Homo sapiens: one gene and its partners. The protein of the gene in region 2 purifies or fractionates together with the protein of the main gene of each other region. This does not show direct contact. Each region holds a gene or a part of one and is shown on either strand. Other genes may lie near its edges. The genes, in order: OAT, SOD2, FAHD2A and UBR2.

What was found.
Region 1: the proteins of SOD2 (region 2) and OAT fractionate together in Homo sapiens (co-fractionation; 2 studies listed by BioGRID). This does not show direct contact.
Region 3: the proteins of SOD2 (region 2) and FAHD2A fractionate together in Homo sapiens (co-fractionation; 2 studies listed by BioGRID). This does not show direct contact.
Region 4: the proteins of SOD2 (region 2) and UBR2 purify together in Homo sapiens (affinity purification with mass spectrometry; 3 studies listed by BioGRID and IntAct, with this or other methods). This does not show direct contact.

What each region holds. Positions count from the first base shown.
Region 1 is NC_000010.11:124,415,907-124,423,120, reverse strand, and holds the start of OAT (ornithine aminotransferase, mitochondrial isoform 1 precursor), read left to right. Parts: upstream 1-4,197; 5' UTR 4,198-4,248; intron 4,249-7,214. UniProt on the Homo sapiens protein: Catalyzes the reversible interconversion of L-ornithine and 2-oxoglutarate to L-glutamate semialdehyde and L-glutamate.
Region 2 is NC_000006.12:159,669,241-159,676,260, forward strand, and holds part of SOD2 (superoxide dismutase [Mn], mitochondrial isoform A precursor), read right to left. Parts: 3' UTR 1-7,020. UniProt on the Homo sapiens protein: Destroys superoxide anion radicals which are normally produced within the cells and which are toxic to biological systems.
Region 3 is NC_000002.12:95,397,708-95,405,723, reverse strand, and holds the start of FAHD2A (oxaloacetate tautomerase FAHD2A, mitochondrial), read right to left. Parts: upstream 3,017-8,016; 5' UTR 2,852-3,016; exon of another isoform or gene 2,732-2,851; intron 2,725-2,731; exon of another isoform or gene 322-2,724; intron 172-321; 5' UTR 166-171; coding exon 1-165. UniProt on the Homo sapiens protein: Tautomerase that converts enol-oxaloacetate, a strong inhibitor of succinate dehydrogenase, to the physiological keto form of oxaloacetate. It is thereby required to maximize aerobic respiration efficiency by preventing succinate dehydrogenase inhibition.
Region 4 is NC_000006.12:42,559,587-42,567,047, forward strand, and holds the start of UBR2 (E3 ubiquitin-protein ligase UBR2), read left to right. Parts: upstream 1-4,442; 5' UTR 4,443-4,733; coding exon 4,734-4,811; coding exon of another isoform or gene 4,812-4,945; intron 4,946-7,461. UniProt on the Homo sapiens protein: E3 ubiquitin-protein ligase which is a component of the N-end rule pathway.

The DNA of each region.
Region 1 (7,214 bases), on a different chromosome or scaffold from region 2:
GTTTCCCCATGTTGGTCAGTCTGGTCTCAAACTCCCGACCTCAGGTAATCCTCCCACCTCGGCCTCCCAAAGTATTGGGATTATAGGTGTGAGCCACTGCGCCCAGATGAGTGAGTTTTCTTTTCTCAAATTGATAGAGCTAGAGAGCCAGAGAGATATTGTAGGTTAAAAAACGACCGCAGGCCAGGCATGGTGGCTCACACCTGTAATTCTAGCACTTTGGGGGGCCGAGGCCGGAGGATTGCTTGAGCCCAGGAGTTTGAGACCAGCCTGAGCGAGATGTCGAGACCCTGTCTCTATGTGTATTTTTAAATTAAAAAAAGAAAAAAGACTGCAGGCCAGCCTGACGTGGACAGGAAGTGCTCAGGAAGAGGACGAGGCCCCTTCAGTCTCAGTCGTCAGGGAGGGTCTCACCTGGGGGACGGGAAGGGGTTGCAGCCTGAGTTCGTAGGTGGAGCTTGGCTCCGGGAGAGAAAAATTAATACTCCCGTCAGGCACAGCCTCATATGAGGACCCATAGACGAACGGCAACATTTCTGAGTCTCTGTCTATCATTCCCAGTTCAGAACGTTTACCATCGATCACTCTCCCACTGTCCTCGATGCCTTGCTTAACTTGCTCCTTCCAGATCCCTGCCTTTCTGGACTTAAAGGAGGTTTGCTCTCCACCAGACCTAAATACCTGTCCTGACTTGGTGCACTGGGAGCAGGAAGGATGCGTTACACATGTTGCCCAGACTTCTGCTGCGAAGACATCTTTTTAGGGTGAATGTAATCTGGGAAACAAAATTTCTCCTGCAGGTTAAAAATCACCAAACACTTATTTTCTCTGTGTCGTTATCAGTTTTCCTCCTTGGCTGTCAGCTTGGATTTTCCTTTTTAATCATTTGAAGCCCAGGTATATGCAGACTATACTAATAAGAAGTCAGGACGAGTGGGACAATAAAGGAAGCAACGCAAAGCAAGAGATCTGCATAGCCCACCCGTTGTTTTTCTGGCCACTAAATACTAGAGAGTTGTCTGTATAAGAAAATCAATGATTCTTTCCTTTTTTAAAATACAGTTGCAGCTTTTTTAGATGACCAATGTCGCAAGATTTTTGTTCACATCTGTTAAAGGAGCATTTCTGGAACTTCTCCCTCCTTACTGAAGAGACTCATATGGGTCGGGCATGGTGGCTCATGCCTGTAATCCCAGCACTTTGAGAGGCAGAGGTGGGCAGATTGCTTGAGTCCAGGAGTTCAAGACCAGCCTGGACAACATGGTGAAACTCCATCTTTACCAAAAAGATATAAAAATTAGCTGGGCGTAGTGGCATGCGCTTGAAGTCCCAGTTACTCAGGAGGCTGAGATGGGTGGATCCAGGAGGTAGAGGTTGCAGTGAGCCATGACCATGCCACTGCACTCCAGCCTTGGCGCCAGAGCGAGACTCTGTCTCAAAAAACAAACAAACAAACAAACAAACAAACAAAAAGGACTCACATGGTGTTGCCTGATGATGTGAAACCCCTCGCAAGGTCAGGCACCTGAGGCACTCAAAGGACATTTGTCGAATGAACTGATGAAATGAATTTAGGTCTTGGATGTCTGTTATGAGGGCCATGGAGTTTTGCTCTTGTTGCCCAGGCTGGAGTGCAATGGCACAATCTTGGCTCACCACAACCTCCTCCTCCCGGGTTCAGGCGATTATCCTGCCTCAGCCTCCGAAGTAGCTGGGATTACAGGCATGCGCCACTGTGCCTGGCCTGAGGGCCACTCTTTATATCCTCAGGTTTTATGGTCCCCATATAGTTAATTACTTGAATTATTAATAGTTTTTAGAGACTCAAAAATCTTTGTAATGTGCACTTTACCTTTATGTTTCTAGATTGAACAAATAAAATACATACAAATAAAGCAGCTCTGTTTCTTGGTTGAAAAGAAGCAGCTTTCAAGTTCAGGTCTCTCTGTCAAGGCCACATTATGCTGAAAAACAACTCTAGTACAGAGACCATAAAATGTTATCATGCTTTCTGGACCTATTGCATTTTTCTGATAAGAGGAAAGAGATAAAACCCAGACATTTCCAGCAACTTCTTGCATATGAAACTCCTTAAAGAGCACCTTATCTGTGAGCCCAAAGACATTGTAACATACTTTATGTTACCCCTGGATCCTGGGTGTCATGTGCCTCTCCTGAACTCACCTGCTCCTCCTTGACAAGGCATAACTCGGGAGTCTTGGGCTCTATAAGAGTTCCAAGAGCTGGGCATGGCCCCACATACCTGCCCAGGTTTATAGAGCAGGACCATGGAGAAACCATTCCTTTCTGACCCCTTGGGCAGAATAACCTAACTTCCAGGAAGTTAATCACATTGTATTGGGTGCTGTGGAGGAACATGAAAGAAATAAAAGGCAATGTTCTGCTCTCAGTGAGTTCTGGAGAGCCCATGGCCACAACAGTCTGAGAGAGTGACCTTGGTATAGGGCAGATGGAGCCCAGGGGGACTGAATCCCTTTTGGTGTCTTGCTCTGCACATCTGCAGATACTGGCTCTGCTGTTCACAGCTCTGCACCCATATCACTTTCTTATCCCTACCATTTAGCATGGACTTTACTTTCTGCTTAGCTAAGACTTATCTTAGCCAGTTATGTATGTTGGATGTCTTCCAATTGCTCCCCTACCCCGTCTCCACCCTTTTCCACCCTGCTGTTTGTCCCAGGAGGCTGAGCTGTCTTAAAGGGCTCCCCTGGCCTCTGGCCTCCTAATGGCTTCAGCCCATGTGGAAGCCTGACAGGAGATGCTCATTGTCCAGCTCCTTCCCATGCAGTTGCTGATGACTTTGGTGACCAGATAGCCTTTCCCACACTCCTCTCTTTGGGTTCTGGAATTCTGGAAACCCCACTTGGAGGCCGTTGGGCCTAGGATGGATAATGGCCCTCGCTGGTGCATGAGACCCAGGTTATTTCTCCATCCCTTGTGGTTTACTTGCCTACATTGATTGATTGATTGGTTGATTAAGATAGATGGTCTTGCTTTGTTGCCCAGGCTGGAGTGCAGTGGTGCAGTCATAGGTCACTGCAGCCTCAACCTCCTGGGCTCAAGTGATCCTCCCACCTCAGCCTTTGGAGTAGCTGGGAACATAGGTGTGCCACCACACCAGATTAATTTTTATTTTTTTTTGTGGAGACGGGGTCTCACTGTGTCGCCCAGGCTGGTCTGGAACTCCTGGGATCAAGCAATCCTCCTGCCTCGGTCTGCCAAAGTGCTGGGATTACAGGCATGAACCACGGGCCCCCACCACCACGTTTTAGGAAATGTTCACATTGGAGTGTGCCCTCTGTTTCCAGCTGGGCCCCCGACTGGTCATTGTGGTCTAATGGAGTGTGGTGCCGGCAGCTGCCAGCGCCTGCCCTCTGAGAGGGGTGGCGAGGGGCACACAGGACCAGACTGCCCCTACTGTTGGATGACTGGGTAAGTCGCTTTCCTTCTCTGGGTCTCTGTTTTCCAATATTTAACATCTTGTTGTGGGCTAAGTGAAGTCCAAGTCCCTTCCGATTCTAACATGAGGTTGTCCCGGAATATCTATTTTGTGTTCTGAATTTAATAACCGGCTGTGGAGGGCACCACAGGCAAATCTGTACTGTGAGTGGGTTGCTGCCACTCAATTATCTGACAGCAGCTGCGAACAGGTGGGCAGTGTGTTTTCCATAGGCAGCGACGACTTTTGGAGGTGGATTCAGAGGCACAACTAAGCCGCGCGGCGCATCAGGGTTCAAGGGCATGGGGCTCCCGCAGCTGTGGCTGGGGCAGAGCTGGGGCTGGTCCCTCCCTCCAGGAGCACAGGGCGGGCGGTCCAGCCTCACGTCTCTCGGCCTCCAGCCACACCCGGCCCGCGCAGTGGGGGGCCCAACAGACTTTTCCTTTTCGGGCCTCAGTCTTCTCGTCAGCAAGGGCGGACAAGGACTCTTCTCGTCCCGCCAGAGGAGGCGACCGAGGGGCCTGAGCTCAGGTACAGGCCGGCGGGCTCAGGAGGCGCGAGCGCGGATCGAATCCGCGGGAGGAGCAAAGATCCTTGATGCGCGGCCGGAGGGCGGGGCGGAGGACGGGACCCACGCGATTGGTATCCTGCCCTCCGCCCCAGCCAATGAGCGGCGAGGGTGTCTTGGGGGCGGGGCAGAATCAGCCTTTAAGTTGCAGTGACTCTCCGGCGTCACTGTTGCGCTTCATAGACGCCGCGTGTACCCGGTTGTCCTCAGGCGCTGTCAGGTACCGTCTGGGCGCCGCTGTCCTGGGGCTCTGGTTCGGGCCCTGGCCGGGGTTCCCTGACAGCGGCGGGGGAGGCGGGCGGGCGCGGGGTGGCCGCGGCCCGGGTTCGGGGGATGCTGGCTGAGGGGGCGCGCTGGGCCTCGGCCGGGGAACGAGCCCCGCTTCAGCGGCCCGTTTACTCTGCGGGCGGCTCGGACCCGGGCGCCCTGGAGTCTCCGGCCGGCGCGCAGCTTCAGGGGGCAGGGGCGTGGCGACCCACGGCTTGCAGGCCGGAGTCCTGGTTCCAGCCCAGAGCGGCCGACGGGCGGGCGGCAGGGAGAGGCTGAGGATGTGGCAGCCCCGCCTGCCAGACCGGGCGGAGCCGCCGCCCCCTGCGCTCGCGGCCTGTGGAGGCCAGGACTCGGCCCACCCGGCCCAGAGACCCCGAGGCGCCCCGGGGTTCCGGGTAGGAGGCCTTTGGGCACCCTTGGTTCCTGGGGTTGGCGGGGAGGCTGCGTTCTGGGGACGGGGGAGCTGTGCAGTAAACCGGTGGCCCTGGTCACGCGGCGGGGGCGCTGATGCAGCCTTGGAGGGCTGGGTCCTCCCGGCCTGCTCCTGCGCCCTGCAGATCGGCCTGCCCATCGCTCCCCTCTTCCAGCCTATGATTTTTTTTCTCCAGCCTCTGTCGAAATAAAGAAAATTACGGAAGCAGAACCTTCCTTACAGTAACGTGCAGGTTAATTAGATGGTGGGGGATGGGGGGGCAACAGGACTTTCAGCATGAAAACCTCCCGTTGGGGGCTTTTTGCAAACCCTGCTGAGCATCAGTAAATGGGCCTGGCCAGTGCGTTTCCTCGATCGCCTTCCCGGGCGGGACGGGAGGGGTCATTGTCCGCCCTTTGCTGGCGAGAGGACTGAGGCCCGAAGTCACCTGGGCACTCGCCCTGTGACCCACCGTCTCCTTTTGTCACTCTACATCTTACCTTTTCGGTGTTCAGTTTTACCTCTTAGATAAATTACGGTGATAAATTAAGGGCGAACAGACAGTGACTTTGGAATGAAGTGGCTTTACCTTAAGAAATGACTAATGTTCAGTTTCCAAATTCTAAATTTCTCCTTCTGGGATTGAAAGGGTTTCTGTGGATAAGCTAGTTCTTTCAGTTAACCCCGGAACTGTTCTTTAGATTGTAATCAATCGCTCTTAGCCATGTGAAATAACAATAGACTCCTTTCATTAGAATATCCTGGTTCTGTCTTTAGATGAATCTTTTCATAAAAACGAGCGTTAAATTAAAAAGCTTATTTTTAGCCCGGCACGGTGGCTCACACCTGTGTAATCCCAGTATTATGGGAGGCCCAGGCAGGCGGATCACCTGAGGCCAGGAGTTTGAGACTAGCCTGGCCAACATGGTGAAACCCTTTCTCTACTAAAAATACAAAAATTAGCCAGACATCGTGGTGCGCGCCTGTAATCCCAGCTACTCGGGAGGCTGAGGCAGGAGAATTGCTTGAACCCGGGAGGCAGAGCTTGCAGTGAGTTGAGATCGTGCCACTGCACTCCAGCCTGGGCGACAGACTCCGTCTCGAAAAAAAAAAAAAAAAAAAAAAAAGCTTATAGTTTTGGGTTTACAGTTTTTCATGGTGTTTAAGATTAGTTTTGCATCCCCCCCCCAAAGAAAAATCCAGTATAACTTTAAATAGTAAACATTTTTAAAAGACATTTTTCCCTCAAAGCAGCTGTCTTAATATGTATTATCCCCATAGCGTGCCTTTATTACAGTTATTTGTGTGCATATTTTATGCCCTTTAGTGAGTTCTTGAGGACCTTTCAAATCTCAAACATTTACAAATAGTGATGAATGCACGAATTTGGATGTGTGTGGAGGATGTGCTGTAGTTGACCCCGGTCCTTTCTCAGTAGTAAAACTAGTTGTTTGCCAATGATGCACTTGGCTTGAATTTTAGCCAGAATACTGATTACGTCAAAGAGACTTCTGTTGGTAGAACTTTTTTTTTTTTTTTTTTTTAAAGGCCTGTATTTGTGAATGGTTACCTCAGGAAAAGTAAATATTTGTCAAAATAGCAAGAACAAATTTACTCCTCAAGTTGAATATTTTAAGTGGCTTTTGGACAACTTTACGCCGACTATTCTTTTAGAGTAAGAAAATAGTTTTTAAGAGTATAGGCTAAATTAACTTCAAAATGCAGCCTTTTGTGGAAATTCTACTGTAGGTATGTTCTAATGTAGATGGATGGGCTAGATGGAGGGAGTAATGGTAGCCTGAAGGACCCTGTTAATTACGTGGATAAAACCTTCAGTGTTAGAATTCTAGCTTGCCAAGAGCAATTTGTTCTCATTTCCAGGACCTGAGTATGGGCGTCAGGTAGATGCATGATAGCTGCCTGGAACACATTATTTTGACCTTTGAAGGCCATTAGATCTAATGAAGTAAACTCTTGATGAAGAGATGAGTTATTCTAGATGAGGTCAGAGAGTGAACACCCCCTCTTAGAGTTAGACTCAACCTGGTCAGGGATAGGTGATCCCATGGTCTTGATCACTTGCTACCTTGACTCCCTCAGGAGTCCTAAGTAAGACTGACCTCTTTATCTGATAAAGGCCCACAGGATGCCCAACCTGGGCTAGGTTCTAGGAATGCAAAGTGAATTTTACTGTTTTTTAAAGGAGCTTAGAGTATAGACTTATAGGCATAAAAACAAGTGGCCTGCAGTGTTAGGACCCGTTACAAGTCTGCACAGTCCCTGGGAGTCTCTAGGAGGGACTTAAATAGTAAATTCTATAGGGGAGGGTGAAAAAAAGCTAATATGGATGCTAATTATGCATAGAAAAAATAACCAAATGTTAATGGTTATCATGCAAGTGTAAAATTGCTGGTAATTTTCTTGTCTGTGTTTTCTAATTTTTTATCAACTGAAAAATGGTGTGTGTGTGTCTTTTTAAACAGTTTTAAAAATAAATCATGGCA
Region 2 (7,020 bases):
TTCCATGTGCTGATGAAAAGAACGTGTGTTCTGCAGCTATTAGAGTGTTCTGCACCTATTAGAATGTTCTGTAAATGTCAGGTCCATTTGGTGTAAAGTGCAATTTAAATCCAATATTTATTGGTTTTATGTCTAGAAAATCTGTCCAATGCTGAGAGTAGAGTGAAGTCCTCAACTACTATTGTATTAGAGTCTATTTCTCCCTTTAAATCTAATAATATTTGCTTTATATCTGGGTCATCCAGTGTGGGGTACATATATATTTATAATGATAATATCCTCAGGCCTGGCACAGTGGCTCATGCCTATAATCCCAGCACCTTAGGAGGCCAAAGCAGGAGGACTGCTTTGAGACCCAGAGTTTGAGACTAGCCAGGCAACATAGCATAACCCCATCTCTACAAAAAAATTTTCTTAATAAAAAAATATGATTATATCTTGCATGAATTGATCCTTGTTTCATTACATAATGACTTTTCTTTTTACAGTTTTTGACTTAAAGTCTATTTTATCTCATGTAAGTATAGTTATTTCTGCTCTTTTTTGGCTTCCATTTGTATGCAATATCTTTCTCCATACCTTCACTTTTGGCCTGTCTTTACAGGTGAGGTTTCTTGTAGGCAGCATACAGTCGAGTCATGATGGTGGTTTTTAATCCATTCAGTCAATCTATATCTTTTAAGTGGGAGAATTTAATCCATTTACATTCAAAGTTATCATCAATAGAGGTGCAGACTTTTTAAACAAATCTCTTCCCAGGAGAATCACTTGTTTTTTGAGAGACAGGATCTCTTTCACCCAGACTGGAGTGCAGTGTAGACTCACACTGTAATCACAGCTCACTGTAGACTCCAACTCATGACCTCAAGGGATCCTCCCAACTCAGCCTCTCAAGTAGCTGGGACTATAGGGATGTGCCAGCATGCCCAGCTAAATTTTAACTTTCTGTAGAGATGGGGTCTTGCTTTGTTGCCCAGGCTGGTCTCAAACTCCTGGACTCAAGAGATCCTCCTGCGTTGGCCTCCCAAAGCACAGAGATTACAAGTATAGGCCACCACACTCAGCCTTGATAGGTGAAGACTTACTTGTGTCATTTTTTAAATTGTTTTCTGGTAAAAATGCTAACAGTAACTAGGAGCTAAAAGATTCATTTGTTTTTTTCCTCCAGGCATCCACTCTGAGCCCCAGTGAAGAATGGTGGCAGCTGTAAGCACTACCAGCAAGTATACCCTACTGGTTGGAGAACTTTGTTTAAAGGATATAAGTTGTGTGCCTTCTGTAAATGACGATTTAATAATATCAATATCCATTTATCCTCTATAATCATAGTCAATACACAGAGAAAACCAAAAAATGCCAGACTTGGGTTGGGTTCCAAGATGGCCGAATAGGAACAGCTCCAGTCTACAGCTCCCAGCGTGAGCGACGCAGAAGACAGGTGATTTCTGCACTTCCAACTGAGGTACCAGGTTCATCTCACTGGGGCTTGTTGGACAGTGGGTGTAGGACGGTGGGTGCAGCCCACTGAGCATGAGCTGAAGCAGGGCAAGGCATGGCCTCACCCGGGAAGGCAAGGGGTCAGGGAATTCCCTTTCCTAGCCAAGGGAAGCTGTGACAGACGGCACCTGGAAAATTGGGTCACTCCCACCCTAATACTGCGTTTTTCCAATGGTCTTAGCAAACGGCACACCAGGAGATTATATCCTGTGCCTAGCTCGGAGGGTCCCACGCCCATGGAGCCTTGCTCATTGCTAGCACAGCAGTCTGAGATCGAACTGCAAGGTGGCAGTGAGGCTAGGGGAGGGGAGCCCACCATTGCTGAGGCTTCAGTAGGTAAATAAAGCAGCCGGGAAGCTCGAACTAGGTGGAGCCCACTGCAGCTCAAGGAGGCCTGCCTGCCTGCCTCTGTAGACTCCACCTCTGGGGGCATGGCATAGCCGAACAAAAGGCAGCAGAAATCTCTGCAGACTTCAATGTCCCTGTCTGACAGCTTTGAAGAGACCAGTGGTTCTCCCAGCACAGAGTTTGAGATCTGAGAACGGAGAGACTGCCTCCTCAAGTGAGTCCCTGACCCCCGAGTAGCCTAACTGGGAGGCACCCCCAAGTAGGGGCAGACTGACACCCCACATGGCCGGGTACCCCTCTGAGATGAAGCTTCCAGAGGAATGATCAGGCAGCAACATTTGCTGTTCAGCAATATTCGCTGTTCTACAGCCTCCACTGTGATACCCAGGCAAACAGGGTCTGGCGTGGACGTCCAGCAAACTCCAACAGACCTGCAGCTGGCGGTCCTGACTGTTAGAAGGAAAACTAACAAACAGAAAGGACATCCACACCAAAACCCCATCTGCACATCACCATCACCAAAGACCAAAGGTAGATAAAACCACAAAGATGGGGAAAAAACAGAGCAGAAAAGCTGAAAATTCTAAAAATCAGAGCGCCTCTCCCCCTCCAAAGGAACATAGCTCCTTGCCAGCAACAGAACAAAGCTGGACGGAGAATGACTTTGACGAGTTGAGAGAAGAAGGCTTCAGATGATCAAACTTCTCCAAGCTAAAAGAGGAAGTTCGAACCCATCACAAAGAACCTAAAAACCTTGAAAAAAGATTAGACAAATGGCTAACTAGAATAACCAGCATAGAGAAGTCCTTAAATGACCTGATGGAGCTGAAAACCATGGCATGAGAACTACGTGACGAATGCACAAGCTTCAGTAGCCAATTCGATCAACTGGAAGAAAGGTTATCAGTGATTGAAGATCAGATGAATGAAATGAAGTGAGAAGAGAAGTTAAGAGAAAAAAGAGTAAAAAGAAACGAACAAAGCTTCCAAGAAATATGGGACTATGTGAAAAGACCAAATCTACGTCTGATTGGTGTACCTGAAAGTGACGGGGAGAATGGAACCAAGCTGGAAAACACTCTGCAGGATATTATCCAGGAGAACTTCCCCAATCTAGCAAGGGAGGACAACATTCAAATTCAGGAAATACAGAGAACGCCACAAAGATACTCCTCGAGAAGAGCAACTCCAAGACACATAATTGTCAGATTCACCAAAGTTGAAATGAAGGAAAAAATGTTAAGGGCAGCCAGAGAGAAAGGTCGGGTTACCCACAAAGGGAAGCCCATCAGACTAACAGCTGATCTCTCAGCAGAAACTCTACAAGCCAGAAGAGAGTGGGGGTCAATATTCAACGTTCTTGAAGAAAAGAATTTTCAACCCAGAATTTCATATCCAGCCAAACTAAGCTTCATAAGTGAAGGAGAAATAAAATCCTTTACAAACAAGCAAATGCTGAGAGATTTTGTCACCACCAGGCCTGCCTTACAAGAGCTCCTGAAGGAAGCACTAAACATGGAATGGAACAACCAGTATCAGCCACTGCAAAAACATGCCAAATTGTAAAGACCATTGAGGCTAGGAAGAAACTGCATCAACTAACGAGCAAAATAACCAGTGAACATCCTAGTGACAGGATCAAATTCACACATAACAATATTAACCTTAAATGTAAATGGGCTAAATGCTCCAATTAAAAGACACAGACTGGCACACTGGATAAAGAGTCAAGACCCATCAGGGTGCTGTATTCAGGAAACCCATCTCACGTACAGAGACACACACACATAGGCTCAAAATAAAAGGATGGAGGAAGATCTACCAAGCAAACGGAAAACAAAAAAAAAGGCCGGGGTTGCAATCCTAGTCTCTGATAAAACAGACTTTAAACCAACAAAGATCAAAAGAGACAAAGAAGGCCATTACATGATAGTAAAGGGATCAATTCAACAAGAAGAGCTAACTATCTTAAATATATATGCACCCAATACAGGAGCACCCAGATTCATAAACCAAGTCCTTAGAGACCTACAAAGAGATTTAGACTCCCACACAATAACAATGGGAGACTCTAACACCCCACTGTCAATATTAGACAGATCAACGAGACAGAAAGTTAACAAGGATATCCAGGAATTGAATTCAGCTCTGCACCAAGCAGACCTAATAGACATCTACAGAACTCTCCACCCCAAATCAACAGAATATACATTCTTCTCAGCACCACATCGCACCTATTCCAAAATTGACCACATAGTTGGAAGTAAAGCACTCCTCAGCAAATGTAAAAGAACAGAAATTATAACATACTGTCTCAGACCACAGTGCAATCAAACTAGAACTCAGGATTAAGAAACTCACTCAAAACCACTCAGCTACATGGAAACTGAACAACCTGCTCCTGAATGACTACTGGGTACATAACAAAATGAAGGCAGAAATAAAGATGTTCTTTGAAACCAACGAGAACAAAGACACAACATACCAGAATCTCTGGGACACATTTAAAGCAGTGTGTAGAGGGAAATTTACAGCACTAAGTGCCCACAAGAGAAAGCAGGAAAGATCTAAAATTGACACTCTAACATCACAATTAAAAATATTAGAGAAGCAAGAGCAAACACATTCAACAGCTAGCAGAAGACAAGAAATAACTAAGATCAGAGCAGAACTGAAGGAGACAGAGACACAAAAAAACCTTCAAAAAATGAATGAATCCAGGAGCTGGTTTTTTGAAAAGATAAACACAATTGATAGACCGCTAGCAAGACTAATAAACAAGAAAAGAGAGAAGAATCAAATAAATGCAATAAAAAATGATAAAGTGGATATCACCACCAATCCCACAGAAATACAGAGTACACAGAGAATACTATAAACACCTCTATGCAAATAAACTAGAAAATCTAGAAGAAATAGATAAATTCCTGGACACATACACCCTCTCAAAACTAAACCAGGAAGAAGTTTAATCCCTGAATAGACCAATAACAGGCTCTGAAATTGAGGCAATAATTAATAGCCTACCAACCAAAAAAAGTCCAGGACAAGATGGATTCACAGCCGAATTCTACCAGAGGTACAAGGAAGAGCTGGTACCATTCCTTCTGAAACTATTCCAATCAATAGAAAAAGAGGGAATCCTCCCTAACTCATTTTATGAAGCCAGCATCATCCTGATACCAAAGCCTGGCAGAGACATAACAAAAAAAGAGAACTTTAGACCAATATCCCTGATGAAAATCAATGCAAAAATCCTCAATAAAATACTGGCAAACTGAATCCAGCAGCATATCAAAAAGCTTATCCACCATGATCAAGTGGGCTTCATCCCTGGGATGCAAGGCTGGTTCAACATACACAAATCAATAAAAGTAATCCAGCATATAAACAGAACCAAAGACAAAAACCACATGATTATCTCAACAGATGCAGAAAAGGCCTTGGACAAAATTCAACAGCCCTTCATGCTAAAAACTCTCAATGAATTAGGTATTGATGGGACATATCTCAAAATAATAAGAGCTATCTATGACAAACCCACAGCCAATATCAGACTGAATGGGCAAAAACTGGAAGCATTCCCTTTGAAAACTGGCACAAGACAGGGATGCCCTCTCTCACCACTCCTATTCAACATAGTGTTGGAAGTTCTGGCCAGGGCCATCAGGCAGGAGAAAGAAATAAAGGGTATTCAATAAGGAAAAGAGGAAGTCAAATTGTCCCTGTTTGCAGATGACATGATTTTATATTTAGAAAACCCCATCATCTCAGCCCAAAATCTCCTTAATTTGATAAGCAACTTCAGCAAAATCTCAGGATACAAAATCAATGTGCAAAAATCACAAGCATTCTTATACACCAACAACAGACAAACAGAGAGCCAAATCATGAGTGAACTCCCATTCACAACTGCCTCAAAGAGAATAAAATACCTAGGAATCCAACTTACAAGGGATGTGAAGGACCTCTTCAAGGAGAACTACAAACCACTGCTCAAGGAAATAAAAGAGGACACAAACAAATGGAAGAACATTCCATGCTCATGGATAGGAAGAATCAATATCGTGAAAATGGCTATACTGCCCAAGGTAATTTATAGATTCAATGCCATCCCCATCAAGCTACCCATGACTTTCTTCATAGAATTGGAAAAAACTACTTTAAAGTTCATGTGGAACCAAAAAAGAGCCTGCACTGCCAAAACGATCCTAAGCCAAAAGAACAAAGCTGGAGGCATCACGCTACCTGATTTCAAACTATACTACAAGGCTGCAGTAACCAAAACAGCATGGTACTAGTACCAAAACAGAGATATAGACCAATGGAACAGAACAGAGCCCTCAGAAATAATACCACACATCTACAACTATCTGATCTTTGAGAAACCTGACAAAAACAAGAAATGGGGAAAGGATTCCCTATTTAATAAATGGTGCTGGGAAAACTGGCTAGCCACATGTAGAAAGCTGAAACTGGATCCCTTCCTTACACCTTATACAAAAATTAATTCAAGATGGATTAAAGACTTAAATGTTAGACCTAAAACCATAAAAACCCTAGAAGAAAACCTATGCAGTACCATTCAGGACACAGGCATGGGCAAGGACTTCATGTCTAAAACACCAAAAGCAATGGCAACAGAAGCCAAAATTGACAAATGGGATCTCATTAAACTCAAGAGCTTCTGCACAGCAAAAGAAACTACCATCAGAGTGAACAGGCAACCTACAAAATGGGAGAAAATTTTTGCAATCTACTCATCTGACAAAGGGCTAATATCCAGAATCTACAAGGAACTCAAACAAACTTACAAGAAAAAAACAAACCCCATCAAAAAGTAGGTGAAGGATATGAAGAGACACTTCTCAAAAGAAGACATCCATGCATCCAACAGACACATGAAAAAAATGCTCATCATCATGGGCCATCAGAGAAATGCAAATCAAAACCACAATGAGATACCATCTCACACCAGTTAGAATGTCAATCATTAAAAAGTCAGGAAACAACAGGTGCTGGAGAGGATGTGGAGAAATAGGAACACTTTTACACTGGTGGTGGGACTGTAAACTAGTTCAACCATTGTGGAAGACAGTGTGGCGATTCCTCAGGGATCTAGAACTAGAAATACCATTTGACCCAGCCATCCCATTACTGGGTATATACCCAAAG
Region 3 (8,016 bases), on a different chromosome or scaffold from region 2:
GAGGTTGATAACCCCTCCACCATTCCCTGTCTCCAGGCCCAAGTGAGGCCCCACCAGGTGGGGTGCCCGGAACTGCACTAGTCTCATGTCTCTGGAGGGTTGAAAGGGCCACTTCTGAGCCTGCAGCAGAACTGTGAGTAACCTTCTTCTACCAGACACCAGCATCAGAGCCTGCAGAGAAAAATGCAGGATCCAGGAGACAGAGGATCCCAGAGCCATCATCAGGTTCCCTGAAATTCCTAGGGCTATAGCCCGAGGCCCTTTGCCCCATCAACCGTTCCCTGCATACCACACGGGAAGTGGTCCAGGCTTGTATTTTACCTGCTATACTTCATAAGGTGAAACTTTTCTAGAGGAGCAACTACTACATGCTACGCAGTAAGTCCCAGGGATTCCAGCGTTCCTTCAACCAGTGCTTTCTGAAAGTTCCCACTGTGCTTGGCTCTGCTGTAGGTATTGGGGAAACAATGTAGGTGAAACTCAGCCCTGCCATTCTCCCTGCACAGGTCACAGATGTTAACAACTGACGTAAGATTCAGCTATCAGGACTAATGCTGTGAAGATGGTCAGGGGCTCTACCCTTCTCTAGTTTCTGGAGGAAGTGATGTGAGCTGAGCTGGGCTAAATGAGCAGGACCAGGAATTAGCTGGGTGGCAGCCCAGCATGGGCAAGTGACGCTGGTGAAACTGGCTTCACAGTGGCCATAAACAATTTTTTAAATGCTATTTTGGTCCTGTTAACCTCCTACTTAAAATGGTTTCCACTGCTCACATGATCAAGCTAGAACCTCTACCAGGCTGTCCCAGTCTTCTAGGAGCAGCGCCCCCACCTGCCTCTCCAGATAATAATTATTTCGTTTCTCCTGATAGAGAACAAGTTGCCTGAGGGAAGAGGCTGCAGACAAACAACAGGGTCTGGGCCTGACAGCCATCACTTGTCATCTCCCTGGGTCCAGGGCACATGTCTGTCTCTTTCACTGCCCAGCACTGTGCCTGGTGCACAGAAGGCTCTCAGTGACTTTCTGCTGAATGAACAAATAAGTGACAGAAGCAGGGGCTTGACATTTCACTACTTGGGAAAGCTTAGTGCTTGTTAACTTCAGGAGACATGGCTGTGCCTTCCCACAAGGGCCAGTTGTAGTGGCTCATGCGTGATATCCCTAACAATTTGGGAGGCCGAGGTGGGTGGATCACTTGAGGTCAGGAGTTCAAGACCAGCCTGGCCAACGTGGTGAAACCCCGTTTCCACTAAAAATACAAAAAACTCGCCGAGTGTGGTGGCAGCCACCTGTAATCCCAGCTACTAGGGAGGCTGAGACACGAGAATCGCTTGAACCCAGGGGAAGGAGGTTGCAGTGAGCTGAGATCGCGCCACTGCACTCCAGCCTGGGTGACAGACGAAGACTCCATCTCAATTAAAAAAAAAAAAATCCTCAGGGCTCAGATCCTGTTTTGAGTCCAAGGCTCCACTTAAAGACAAACACTATTCTCTTGTTTTGTTCTTAATCCACGTCTGGCCTCTATTCCTTACCACATGGTGCCTTCCCTGAATGGTTCCTTGCTCTTACAACAAAGGCGGTATTGTACAGCCTTCTATGCCCAAAAATGTGGAGGCAGCTGATCCCCAGACTCTTGGTCCTCACCTGGAGATTCAATCTGCCTTGTTCAGTTGAAGATTCATTAGACTTAGGTCACCACTGTTGTGGCCCACCAGTTTGACTAGAAAACCGAGGGCTTTGACTTCTCTGCCCTGCTGTCTTACACAAGCACCAACTGTGCCACTGTCAAAAGGCTGTTCGAGCCAATGTGCACACACTCAGACACTCCACATGCTAACATAACAGTAACTGCTGCCGCTGAATGCCAACTATTAAGTGCTCTACCTACAATGTCTGATTTAATTCTCGACAATTGTGGAAGGTAGGTACTGTTAGCCTCATTTTACAGATGAAACAATTAAGGCTTAAAGAGGTTAAGAGATTTGCCCAAGGTTACACAGTCCTAGAGCTAGGAGAGGAAGGAGCTGGGATGTGAATCCAAGTCCAGGTGACATGAAGTCCTTGGTTCAGAAGCTTGTAATGCAAGCAAAAAAATCCAGCTTCAGCCCCCATCCCCCTACCAAGGCCATTTTAACCCAGAATGTTGTGGTGAGAAGTGGGGACCTTCCATAGGAAATCCTCCAAAGTCTCTAAAGATTGTAGTGAGAAGTAGGGACCTCCCACAGGAGATCCTCCAGAGGCCGTAACTGCTAACAGACATGCGTGGGGAAACTACAGGCGCCCTCTGGCTGTTGCCTCAGGGACGAGGCTGGTTACCAGCTCTCCAAGAGAACCCCAGGCCCCACTGACTGTTCCCTTCCCACATGACACACACATGCAGGTTCATTCCAACCTTACAGCAATCTCCTCAGGTAGAGCGCCCTCACTTTAAAGAAGAGGACACTGAGACTCAAAGGGATGATGTCAGGTGCCCAAGGTACTAGTCAGAAAGTGGCCCTGGGGCTTCTGCAACAACCACTATATCACACAGCCCGAGCTCAATCCAACTCTGCAAGAGTCCATAAGCAAAGGGGCGGCGACATGAGGTGGAAACAGTAGCCTCCATCAAACAAAGCCTGAGACATGGGTGTGCACGTCGGATTCCATCCCACCGTCCACTCGCCTGGAACCCGTGCCGGTCCCCCAGTTTCCCCATATGCCCAGCTCCAGCCCCGACAGTTAGTGAGTGCTCACACAGGTCCGCCCCGTCTGTGTGGTCAGAAGCGGCTGGGGATCCGGTACTAGTTCTGCGCTCCGCGGGAGACCGGCGCCACGGACACCCTTCTGGCCTAGACCCAGCCAGGCTCGTCCTACCTGGCCGCGGCGGCCGATCTTCCTGCGCTGTAGGGTTAGAGCTCGCGGGGCCGAAGGTCAAGGGCGGCGGGCGCCTGAGCACTGCCACCAGTGACCGCAGCCAGCCGGGGAAATGCAGCAGCTGCTAACCCAGGGCCACTCGGCCGGATCACCCGAGAGAAAAGCGGGCGCGATCCTGTGACGTCACAGGCAATGGCCACTAGCAGGGCGCCAATCCCGGAGGGGCGGGCCCATCGTGGGGCGGGCGGCTCCGGCGGGTCTTCAGGCTACGGGTTCAGCCAGGCGCCAGCCGCGTTCTCTGGAGACGCTCTCTCTCGGAGGGACCCTGCACTTGCCTGAACTCGAGAGTGGGCGCTGCCCGAAGGTTTGTCCCTGGGCGCTTCGCTGGCCTCATCCGGTCTCGGCCTTGTTCTGGGCCTGGCGCCTTTCCCATTGTTGGGGAAAGTGGTCTAGGAGACCAAGGCAGCGTGCTGGGTGGCAGAGAATGATTTGTGGCTTCTGATTCTGACATATGTCGTTGAGGAGGGGAGGGATGACTGCCCCCGTTTTACTTATGGAGAACCTGGGGCCAGAGCTGTTTTCCCAGGGTGACACAGGCGGTGAGTAGTGGAGCTGGCATTCCTGACCCCAAAGCGCAGCGTTTCCCAGCCACTCTCCGCAGCCAGGCCTTCACCTGCACTGCTGGGCGCAGGTGGGGAAGTGGGGAAACGGGACTCCATCCCCTGCAGAGGGCAGGCGTGTAGGGAGTGGCAGCTGAACTCCACAGACAGCTACTGCTCAGCTCTTCAGCTGCCGACTTTGAACAGTGTGAGGGGCTCTGTACAAGTGGCCCCCACATTACTCAAGGACCAGATCATCAAGAGCTTTACTTGTCCCACGAAGGAGTCTGGACCTTGTTTACGTGCACAGGAGACCGCTGGAAGGTTCTCAGTGGCGTGCCATGTCCCGACTTCTATTTGAGAAGTTTTTCTCTGGCCACCCGTCTGAGGAAAGGTGTCTGGGTGGGTGGTGCGGTTGAGAACAATGGTGGTGCGGTGCGTGGTGGAGAAGGTGAGTGTCCAGAGATGTTCAGGAGGAAGAACTGACAGCTCTGAATGACAGGAGGTGGAAGTGAGAAGGAAGGAGGTACAAGGCCAACTCCTGGGTCTCTAGCTCGGTAGGTGCAGGGCCGTTCATGGAGACAGGGCTCCTGGAGGAGCAGCGGGTCTGGGGAGAGGATGGTGAGCTCCGATTTGCATGGGACATCCAAAGGGCATTGAACGGTGGGCAGTTGGAGACATGGGTCTGGAGCTTGGGACTTCAGCCTAGCTTGCAGAAGGTCACCACAGATATTGAAATGGAACCTATGGGGGTGGCTGTGATCAGGGGGATTCGCTGAGGAGAACCTGGCACAAGGGTTTCACTAAGCCATAGCTCCCAAAGACTTTCTGAAAAGCTAAGTTACAGCCTGGAAGAAAATATCTGTAAAGGCTATATTTGATAAAAAGACTTGTATCCAGAATATAGAAAGAATGCTTAAAAGTCAGTAGATAAAATCAAACAATTCAATTTTTTAGATGGACAAAATATTTGAACTGACATTTCATCAAATAAGATATACAGACAGAAAATTGGGACATGAAGGCTGGGCGCAGTGGCTCACGCCTGCAATCCCAGCATTTTGGGAGGCCGAGGCAGGCGGATCACAAGGTCAGGAGATCGAGACCATCCTGGCTAACACAGTTAAACCCCATCTCTACTAAAAATACAAAAAATTAGCCGAGCGTGGTGGTGGGCGCCTGTAGTCCTAGCTACTGGGGAGGCTGAGGCAGAAGAGTGGCGGGAACCCGGGAGGTGGAGCTTGCAGTGAGCCGAGATCGTGCCACTGCACTCCAGCCTGGGCGACAAAGCAAGACTCTGTCTCAAAAAAAAAAAGAAAGAAAAAATTAGGACATGAAAAGATGCTCAACATCATTAATCATTAAGGATATGCAAATTGCAAGCGCAATGTGACACCATCTCACACCTACTAGAATGGACAAAGAAGACTGATTATACCAAGTACTGGCAAGAATGTGGAGGACCTGGGATTCTTGTACACTGCTGATGGGATTATAAAATAGTACCACCACGATCGAAAACCATTTGTCAGTGTATGAAGAGAATTAAACATACACCTACCATATGATGTAGCCATTTCAATCCTGACTATTGACAGTATTGAATTTTACCTTAGCCCTTTGCTTCTAGAAATAGTGAAGGTTAAGGAATCCCACCACTCTTTTGTTCCAGAAAACCCCCTACTGGAAAGAACCAGTGACTTTCTATATAACCTGGATAAGACTCCCAGATGCTCCCTTGTTTATCTGTGACCAGGCCAGACACAGACCCTCTAAATTCCCATTCTTGGCCTCATAAATGATTAGCTGGGCTGCTTGTCCCACAGATCAATAAGAACAAAAGCCTGTAACCAAACCTTGGTTCAGATTCTCTCCTTTTCCAAGCCCTTGAGCTTTGGCCCACCCACAGCTTGTGCCAACCCGCAGCCCTCCTGAGGTTCCCTCCTGAGAACAGGCTGTCCGCAGGGTAAGACCTCCTCGATCGTGACACTCTTGCTCAGCCCACTTTCCCATAACAGTTCTTTCTAGCCACGTTTACGCCTCCCTATACAAGATCAGCCCTTTGCCTAACCTCTGAGACACTTGCAGATCATATGGGAAGCCTGCGAGTGGCCGCACTGCAACGTTTCCCTATTGCAATGGTCACCCCCACAACAATCCTTTGGAATAAATTCGCTCCTTATATAATCCAGATTTGTTTTTTTGTTTTATAGTAATTACCTGAGAAATTTAAAAAAAATGCTTATGCAATGGCTTATACAGAAATGTTCACAGCAGCCTTTTTACAAAATCCCCAAACTGGAAACAACTCAATTTTTCATTAACAGGTGAATGTGTAAACACTCTGTTATAGCCACACTAGGGAATACTACCCAGCAATGAAAAGGGACAAATTGTTGATGCAACATGGATATATATCAAGATAATTATTCAGAGTGAAAAAGAGATTAAAAATGAGTACATATGGAATTATTTCATTTGTATAGAGTATCCTTGGGGGGTACTTTCCAAGACCCCTAGAGGACGCCTGAAACTGCAGATAGTACCAAACCCTACATCTGCTACGTCTTTTCCTATATATACATGCCAGTGATCAAATTTAATCCAGATGAAGTTAACCTGGTGCTACACGGTTGCTGTTCAATCAGAATATGTTTCTGTTCACGTCTTCCACCCACAAATCTAATGCCTTTTCCATCCTAACTAAGTGCTTCTCACACACTGTAGCCATAACTTTTGCAGTTTGAGGTGCGACAGCAAAACTGGCACAAATTTCTTTTTCCTTCTTCACAATTTCATGGATAGAAGATTCGTTCTTTCTGTAGCTCTTAGCAACCTCATTATGTGATTTTTGTTTTATTTCCTTAAGTCAGGAGCGTTCCCATAAAGGAAGGCTTCTCTTTGGCATATCGGAAATGCCGACACCACTCCCCTTTTGCTCTGGGGCCATTATGAAGTCAGATGATGGTGCCTTGCACAGAAGCACTGCGGTACCACGACAGTGGATCTAATCACGGAGCCAGCTCATTGGTGACTAAGGGGCAAGGAGGGCAGACGTCATGGAAAAGCTGAACAGAGGAATGATTCTTGTCCCAGGTAGGATGGAGCAGGACAGTGCAGGATTTCATCACAGTACACAGAGCAGCACACAATTTAAAACTTATGAATTGCTTATTGCTGCAATTTTCCAGTTAATATTTTTGGGCCATGGATGACCTTGAGTAACTGAAATTTCAGAAAGCAAAACCATGGATAAGAAGGGACTACAGGCCAGGCGTGGTGGCTCACACCTGAATTCCCAGCACTTTGGGAGGCCAAGGCGGGTGGATCACGAGGTCAAGAGATCGAGACCATCCTGGCTAACACGGTGAAACCCTGTCTCTACTAAATATACAAAAAGTTAGCCAAGCGTGGTGGCGGGCACCTGTGGTCCCCGCTACTTGGGAGGCTGAGGCAGGAGAATGGCGTGAACCCAGGAGGTGGAGCTTGCAGTGAGCCGAGATTGCGCCACTGCACTCCACCCTGGGCAACAGAGCGAGACTCCATCTCAAAAAAAAAAAAAAAAAAAAGAAGGGGCTACAGTACACTAGAAATGCAAATGAATGTGTAGTGACAGGAAACAGGCCAGTGGTTGTTTGGGTGTAGACACCTCCTTGGAGAAACTGCTTGTACCTAGGACAAGAGATGGTGGAGAGCTGGACAAATCCAGGGTTGTAAAACAGAGATCATAAGACTGATGGAATGGAGTCTTTGTGGCTTATAAATTATGAAATTATAAATAAGACTAAGGCCATGCCAGGCAAAAGTCACATACCCCTACACTAAAATAATAAATGTTCTAACTTACCAATTGTCAGATGCTAACTGATGCCCCCAGACTCCAGACTCCATTCCACAAAGCATAACTACAGGTTTGATTGAACAAGAGACTGACTTCAGTAATTTTCTCCTGATAAGACACCACTGACCATGGGCTGGTTCTGGCCAGTTTATAGAGGCTGCGCACTGAGTACCTTTGTGTTCTTTTTTTTTTAAGGCAGACCTGGCTCTGTTGCCCAGGCTGGAGTACAGTGGCATGATGCTGACTCACTGCAACCTCTGCCTCCTGGGCTCAAGCCATCCTCCCACCTTGGCCTCCCAAGTAGCTGGGACCACAGGCACACACCACTGCACCTGGCTAATGTTCTTCTACCTTTTGACCTATAGAGCCTAATTTTAGGCATTTAATGTTATGTTTCCACCCCAAAGTGAACATGGGTTGTATGCAACACACAGGATTATTCAGTTGCATGTGTTAGGATCCCCTCATAAATATTCATAAGGGTCTCATAACTTACTGAATATGTATGTATAGTTCCTGTCTTTGGGCATACACCTCAGCCTCTCCGCTTTTTCCTCTGAAGTGCCTGCTTTTGGTTTCTGCTAAAGGCCACGTTTCCCCACCTGTGGGATGTCCATCCTGCAGGTGGCAACCCTTTCTAAGAGATAAAGCTCTCCTGGCTAAATTTCTACATTTTGTGACTTTTTCCATTGACAATGTGGCTGAATAATCAAAGGGGAAATAAA
Region 4 (7,461 bases), about 120 Mb from region 2:
GCCAAGAGCCGTGGCTCACACCTGTGATCCCAGCACTTTGGGAGGCCAATGAGGGCGGATGACTTGAGGTCAGGAGTTCCAGACCAGCTTGGCCAACATGGTGAAGCCCTGTCTCTACTGAAAAAAAAAAAACAAAAATTAGTTAATTAGTTGGGTGTGGTGGCAGGTGGCTGTAATCCCAGCTACTCAGGAGGCTGAGACAGAAGAATCACTTGAACCTGGGAAGTGGAGGTTGGAGTGAGCTGAGATCATGCCACCCCACTCCAGCCTGTATGACAGAATGAGACTCTCTATTTAAAAAAAAAAAAAAAAAAAGAAAGAAAAAAAATTGAGTGAAATTCCTTGGTGACAGAGTGAAACTTTGTCTCAAAAACAAACAAATAAACAAACAAAAACTCCTTTTCCCTAGCCTCCTGTACTTCTTTCTTGGATATAAAATCTTTGCTTATCTCCTCCAGTGTTTTTAATAACATTTGTAAAAGTTCTTTCCAACTTTCTGACTTGTGTCTGTTTCTTCCTTCGTCATTTTTGTTTTAGTCTCTCTTCCATAGGCTTTGCTCAAGTATCTGTACACAACCGCCTGTCTTCATATTTAAGAATGACTTACTAAAAATATGATTAGAAGTTTTATGCATGGGTGGGGTGAACTGACTATACCATTTTGTTGGGGTCTTATCCTCTACAGAATTTTTTTTTTTTTTTTGAGATGGAGTTTCACTCTTGTTACCCAGGCTGGAGTGTAGTGGCACAATCTCGGCTCACTGCAACCTCCACCTCCTGGATTCAAGCGACTCTCATGCTTCAATCTCCCGAGTAGCTGGGATTACAGGTGCCCACCACCATGCCCAGCTTTTTTTGTATTTTTAGTAGAGACAGGGTTTCATCATGTTGGCCAGGCTGGTCTTGAACTCTTGACCTCAGGTGATCCACCCGCCTCGGCCTCCCAAAGTGCTGGGATTACAGGCATGACCTCTACAGATTTTTTTGGTGGTGAGATAATCTACCCCTCTGGAGAAGACCCTCCCAAACTCTTGCCTGGGAGGTATAAGCCTGGCCACTAAGGTTCTCAGAGCCAAATGGGGAAATAAGCTAGGTTATCCCTGTTCACTATGTAGACTTTGATTCATCTCTCTTGAATGCAGTGCGGTATCCCTGTCCTCAGCTGTGTCTGGTGTCTCCCAGTCAAAAGGCCCTCAAGTGTAGTCACTCTAGAGGATAAAGCTCTAGTCTTCTTCCAGAGTAGGAAGTGAGATCTAACTTCTTGCTATACAGACTTTCAAACAATAAGCTTGCTTTTAGCATTGTCTTCACCCACTTTCAGAGTTACATGGTGCCTCAAATTTTTAAGTCTTTCAGGGTACTGCATATTAATTAGCTTGACTCAGTGTCTCTACTGCTAGCGGAGGTTTCAGCATTCTCTTAGTTACTTCTCAACCACTTGCTTTCCACCAAATTTTGGTGCTGTCATCCTCTCTTCTTTTCTTTTTTTCTCCCTTTACTGTCATGAGGTATTCAATCTGCCACATTTAACTGGAAGTTGGGGCTTAGCTCTTAATGCCCCCATGGGAACAGAAAACAAGACCCTGGGTCAAAGAAACATTGGAATTGCAACTGAGATCCTCTACATAAAGCCAGGGCTTTCAAAGGAATGTCGTATCAGTGAAAGGGTAGACTAGACAAAAAACCCACCAACTGGCATACAAAAATGACAAAGAAGCTCTTTACCTTGACTCTGAGTAGGAAAAAGAACTCTCCTTAAAAATTCATAGACAGGCCGGGCACTGTGGTTCACACCTGTAATCCCAGCACTTTGGGAGGCTGAGGTGGGTGGAACACCTGAGGTCAGGAGTTTGAGACCAGCCTGACCAACATGGTGAAACCCTGTCTCTACTAAAAATACAAAAATTAGTCAGGCATGATGGTACGTGCCTATAATCCCAGCTACTTAGAAGGTAACTATGCTCACCACTATACCACCAACGCATCTAATCCCAGCTACCTAGGAGGCTGAGGTAGGAGAATCGCTTGAATCCGGGAGGCAGAGGTTGCAGTGAGTCAAGATTGCACCATTGCACTCCAGCCTGGACAACAAAGTGAGACTCTGTCTCAAAAAAACAAAAATTATAGACAGAGAAATGGCACACAACTGAATTAATACTATTAGGGAATCTTCAAGCCTAGAAACTGACGTACAATTGGTCCTAGATACAGGATACTCCTAGAGTGCCTGGTCCTGAGTATACGATGTTTTCTAGGTTGTCTGGCCTTGCAGAAGCAAATGAAAAAGTATTTTGAAAGTATTAATACATGGAGAGTCCCACTGCTAATGCTACTAATGCTAAGTGAAGATGATCTCCAAATTCATAATTATGACACACAAGGGAAACAATTTTTTTTTGAGTCAGGCTCTCATTCTTTCACCCAGGTTAGAGTTCAGTGATACAGTCATAGCTCACTACAGGCTTGAACTCCTAGGCTCAAGTGATCTTTCCTGTCTCAGCCTCCCAAAGTAGCTAGGACTACAGACATGGGCCACCATGTTCGGCTAATTTTTAAATTTTTTTGTAGAGATGGGGTCTTGCTATGTTGCCCAGGCTGGTCTCAAACTCCTGGCCTCAAGTTATCCTCCAATCTTGGCCTCCCAAAGTTTTGGTATTACAGGTGTGAGCCACAATGCTCGGCCTGAAACAAATAATGTTAGGAAGCAAATAATGTTAAGAACAGAAATTGCCTTTACAGTCTATTAACGACTTAAATTCTATGTTAGGACAGCTCAAGAGATGTTGTTTTTGCTTCTAGGCTGGGACAATCCCAGTTTTCTTCCAAGTTGACTCTGTCCTGAGTGGATCAGTGTAAGGAAGTTGGGCAAAAAAAGAAAAATACATAGAAGAATATTTCAAGATATCTCATTATAAATATCTGTACAGATATGTGCATACTTTTTTCTGGACAGACTCATAAGACAGTGTCAAAAATGATTTTCTTTGGGGAGAGGGACTTGGGGTAAGAGGAATAGGAAGTTTTCAATTTTCCTTTTTTAAAACATTCCTTTCGAGTTTGAATTTCTGATGTTTTATATGTATATATATATATAACTTTTAAAAAGTGATAAGAAGGCTTACTTGTATTGTGAGGTTACAGGGATACAGGCAGTTTCTTATTTCCTTTTTTAAAAAACTGGTTAATATCATAGTATTGGTTTAAAAAAAATCCCAAAACAACATAAACATAAACATGTCCTAAACCTGGTCTGGCTCAGAACTTTTCCCCCCTATATGTAATTTACAACCTACTTCTGGGAATAAATTAACACACTTGACAAAAGGTATAAACAATTTTCTGACAAACTCTAGAGACTGAAGACTTCTAAGAAGCCCAGTCACCCAGCTGTCAGTCAAGAGTCTAATTACCTTTAACTAAACATAGTTTTCTTTGATAGCTAGTCTAACAATGTTTACCTATTTCTTTTTTTTTTTTTTCCTTCTTTTTTGATACAGGGTCTCAGCTGTGTCACGCAGGCTGGAGTGCAGTGGGCTGATCACAGCTCACGATGGCCTCAACTGCCTGGGCTCAAGCAATCCTCCTGCCTCAGCTTCCCGAGTAGCTGGGACTACAGGCGTGCCACCACACCTGGCTAATTTTTTGATTTTTATCAAGAGGGTCTCGCTATGTTGTCCAAACTGGTCTCAAACTCCTGGGCTCAAGTAGTCTGCCCCCCTCGGCCTCCCAAAGTGCTGGAATTACAGGCATGAGCCACCAAGCTTGGTCTGATTATCTGTAGAAATTAAATGTCTCTATCAAGAGGAAATCTTTTAATTGGCCTAATAGACTCTTTTTCCTTTGCAGCAAGATTTGTGATAAAGTTTATAAGTGGTCATCACTAAAGTTTTTGAAAAATTTTTTAAAACATGTTTTAAACCTTCAAAAAAGTGGGTAATGTTCACCTCCATTACTCGTATAAAAGATATGGGTTCGATGGATGACAGGACATAGAACCACAGGAATAGAATGTAATTCATTCATTCCTTTGACAAGTATTTGAGTGCCTACCCTATGCCAGACTGGCAAGTCCTTGAGGGTCTACCATGTGCCAGGCAGTGTTCTTGAAGCTGGGGATACAAAAATGAACAAACGAGATTCGGAGAATAAAACTACAGTTCCCACAGTATCTTTCTCTTTGGCTTTTTTCCAGGGGGCGCTGCTTTCCGCGACTGTCTTCCCATGATTCTCGTTGGGCAGAAAAGCCCCGCCCGCTTATCTGCCATTTAAGCCAGCGCCCCTTGAGAATGGACTACAACTCCCACAATGCATTCGAGGGGCACCGTGTTAGGGCGCCACCTTTTTCCCGGCTGTGCTGTACCTACAGCACCCAGAACTACAGTACCCAGAAAGCTCCGCTTCCCCTCCTGGGTGTTATTGCCCCTTTCCTGGTGCAGGACGCGGTAGTGGCCAGCGAGAGTGTCAGGCCTGGGGTTTTCTGTGTCCTTCCCTGGGTCAGGGACGAGCCAGTGACTTGACTCTTGGGCGCTAAGCTTGGGAGGGAGCGCAGGAGGCCGCTGTCCTTCCTTTCCGGTTCACGTCACCCTTCTCTCCCTCTGTTGCTCCACCTGCAGCCACTTGGACGGCTCCGGGACTGATTGCCTGGGGCAGGGGTGGCAGTCGAGGCCGCCGGGGCCGAGGTGAGGCTGCAGCTCTCCGGGCGGCGGTAGCGCTGGGGAGGAGGAGGAGAGAAGATGGCGTCGGAGCTAGAGCCAGAGGTGCAGGCCATCGACCGGAGCTTGCTGGAATGTTCGGCCGAGGAGATTGCGGGGGTGAGTGCCGGAACCCGGGCGGGTGCGTCTGCCCCTCGCAGGCCGCGCCTGTGGGGAGGAACCGACTCCTGGACGTCCTGGAGCAGCCCGACCCAGACTTGGGGAAACAGCTGTGCCGGCCCTCGCCTTGTGGGGTAATAGCCCGGGGAGGCCACCGATCCTGCCCCTCTCTTTCCATTTTCAACAGCTGCCAGAGCTGCGCTGTGCACTAACTACGTTTACTTTCCCTTTCTGCCCAGGAGAACCCACGGCTCTTCCATCATACCTCCTTTCCCCCAGCCTCCCATTAAGTCTCCCAACACATGGGCCTTTGCCCTTTATATCAGCTCTTGGAAGAGGAGAAGAGACGCTTCTTGTGTTTTTGGTATAATCGCCCTAGTTTATCTAGTTAATTGCTTTTCCTGAGACAAGCGAAGCCGTGTGCTCCTCCGACTAAACATGCCACCCTAACCGAGCCCCTCTTTTGTTTTTGGGACTGCCCCAGGCACCAAGAAGGCAAACGACACTACCCTTCGTTATCCGTTTCAGTGCTATCTTTTTTTTTTGCACCGGTTTGATTAGTTGACAACGTTGATGCATGTGTGGAAAGTTTACTGAGTATGAGAAAGTAGTCGTGGAGTCTGGGAAATTTTAAAAATATTTTTTCTAGGAGTTAGGGGTAATTGGATGGAGAACAAATGTTATATAACGTTGATAGAGCAGCTTTCAACAAATACTGTATAAGCTAAACGTGAGAACTGGTCACAGTGTAGTAGGAGCAGTTATATTCCAAACGTAAAACCGTTCAAACGCACTATTGCATTAAAACTGTAATATGAATATGCTAGTGTAAATAGCAGAGTTGTAGGAACACCCATTAGAAGAGATTGCCGAGAATGATTATGAATGGACCAAGACAGCTTGGGCCCCACCTCTAAGACCTCCAATTAAAAAGGCTGCTAGGAAGGGAGTGACCCGTGAATAAAAGTCAGCAATCTGAATGCTACGAACAAAATTTGGGATTGGGGGCACTGTGGAGCTGTTGGTCAGTGAGTAGTTATTTTGCGTGAATTGGTGAGGACATTAAGTCCGGGTAGAAAGAAATGTCAGGAGTAGAGGTGAAGACTTTAAAGAAATACGTTGTTAAATGCTGAATCTTTGCTTGTTTGGGTGTGTTTTGTTGTTGTTTGTTTTTGTTTTTGAGACGGAGTTTCGCTTTCGATGCCCAGGCTGGAGTGCAGTGGCGCGATCTCAGCTCACCGCAACCTCAGTCTCCCGGGTTCAAGCGATTCTGCTGCCTCAGCCCCTCGAGTAGCTGGGATTACAGGCATGCACCACCACGCCCGGCTAATTTTGTATTTTTAGTAGAGTTGGGGTTTCTCCATGTTGGTCAGGGTGGTCTCAAACTCCCGACCTCAGGTGATCCACCTGTTTGGGCCTCCCAAAGTGCTGGGATTACAGGCGTGAGCCACTGCGCCCTGCCTTGGTGTGTTTTTTTAAACCTACTTACTTGTTTAGCCTAGGTCTGTTTTCATTTACTTTCTACTTAATGTTGTACAACTCAAGGAATTTCTGCCTTTCGTTTATCGGAGATTTGAAAAAAGAAAATGAAAGTAGTGTTACAAGTAAACTGTTAAATAATAATGACAGCTGTTTGCTCTCCATGCCTCTTCTAATTGATATCTGTTGCTTACCTCAAAGTACTGTTTTGATTTTTTTTCTCTCACTGAATTTTGTGTCTTGGTCCAGTGATACAGGGTACAAATTCCGTTATCCCATTCTAAAAGTGCAAACTATCAAGTGATTAGAGGTTCTCCAATTTGTAGAGGCTCCTGAGGAAACTGGTTATAAAAGTAGTGCGGGAGGCCAGTGCTCCTAGTTCTTGTTCAGTGAAATTCTCAAGCAGATGCAGTAAGGAAAAATCAAGGAAAATGCAACAAAAAATTATTAATTTGGACTTCATTTGAGTTTGTGAAGATCATAATCTGAGCTACATTTTACCCTGTTTACTTTTTTTGTTTGTTTTTTTGAGACAGTCTTGCTCTGTCGCCAGGCTGGAGTGCAATGGCGCAATCTTGGCTTACTGCAACCTCCGCCTCCGGGGTTCAAGTGATTCTCCTGCCTCAGCCTCCCGAATTACAGCTGGGATTACAGGCGTACGCCACCACGCCTGACTAATTTTTGTATTTTTAGTAGACACAGGGTTTCACCACATTGGCCAGGATGGTCTCGAACTCCTGACCTCAGGTTATCCGTCCGCCTTGGCCTCCCAAAGTCCTGGGATTACAGGCGTGAGCCACCGCACACAGCCTACCCTGTTTACTTTTAAATGCCTTTCTGAACAATAAGTTTTTTTTTTTCTTTTTTTGGTAAGAGATGGGGTCTTGCACTGTTGCCCAGACTAGAGTATAGTGACATTATCATAGCTCACTGCAGCCTTGACCTCCTAGGCTCAAGAGATCCTCCTACCTCAAAAACCAATATTAAAATATAAAATTCCTTCAACTATATAACCTTAATCTTGCCTTACTTTGTGAGGACTTTACTGTCTGTATTAAGTTAAAACACCTAACATTTAAAACTGTTTTTTTCAGCTTAGGCTTCAGCTTTTTTATCACACATTTAAATTAATAAAGTTTTTTCTTAGGTTGAAAGCACATTTTAGGGAAGA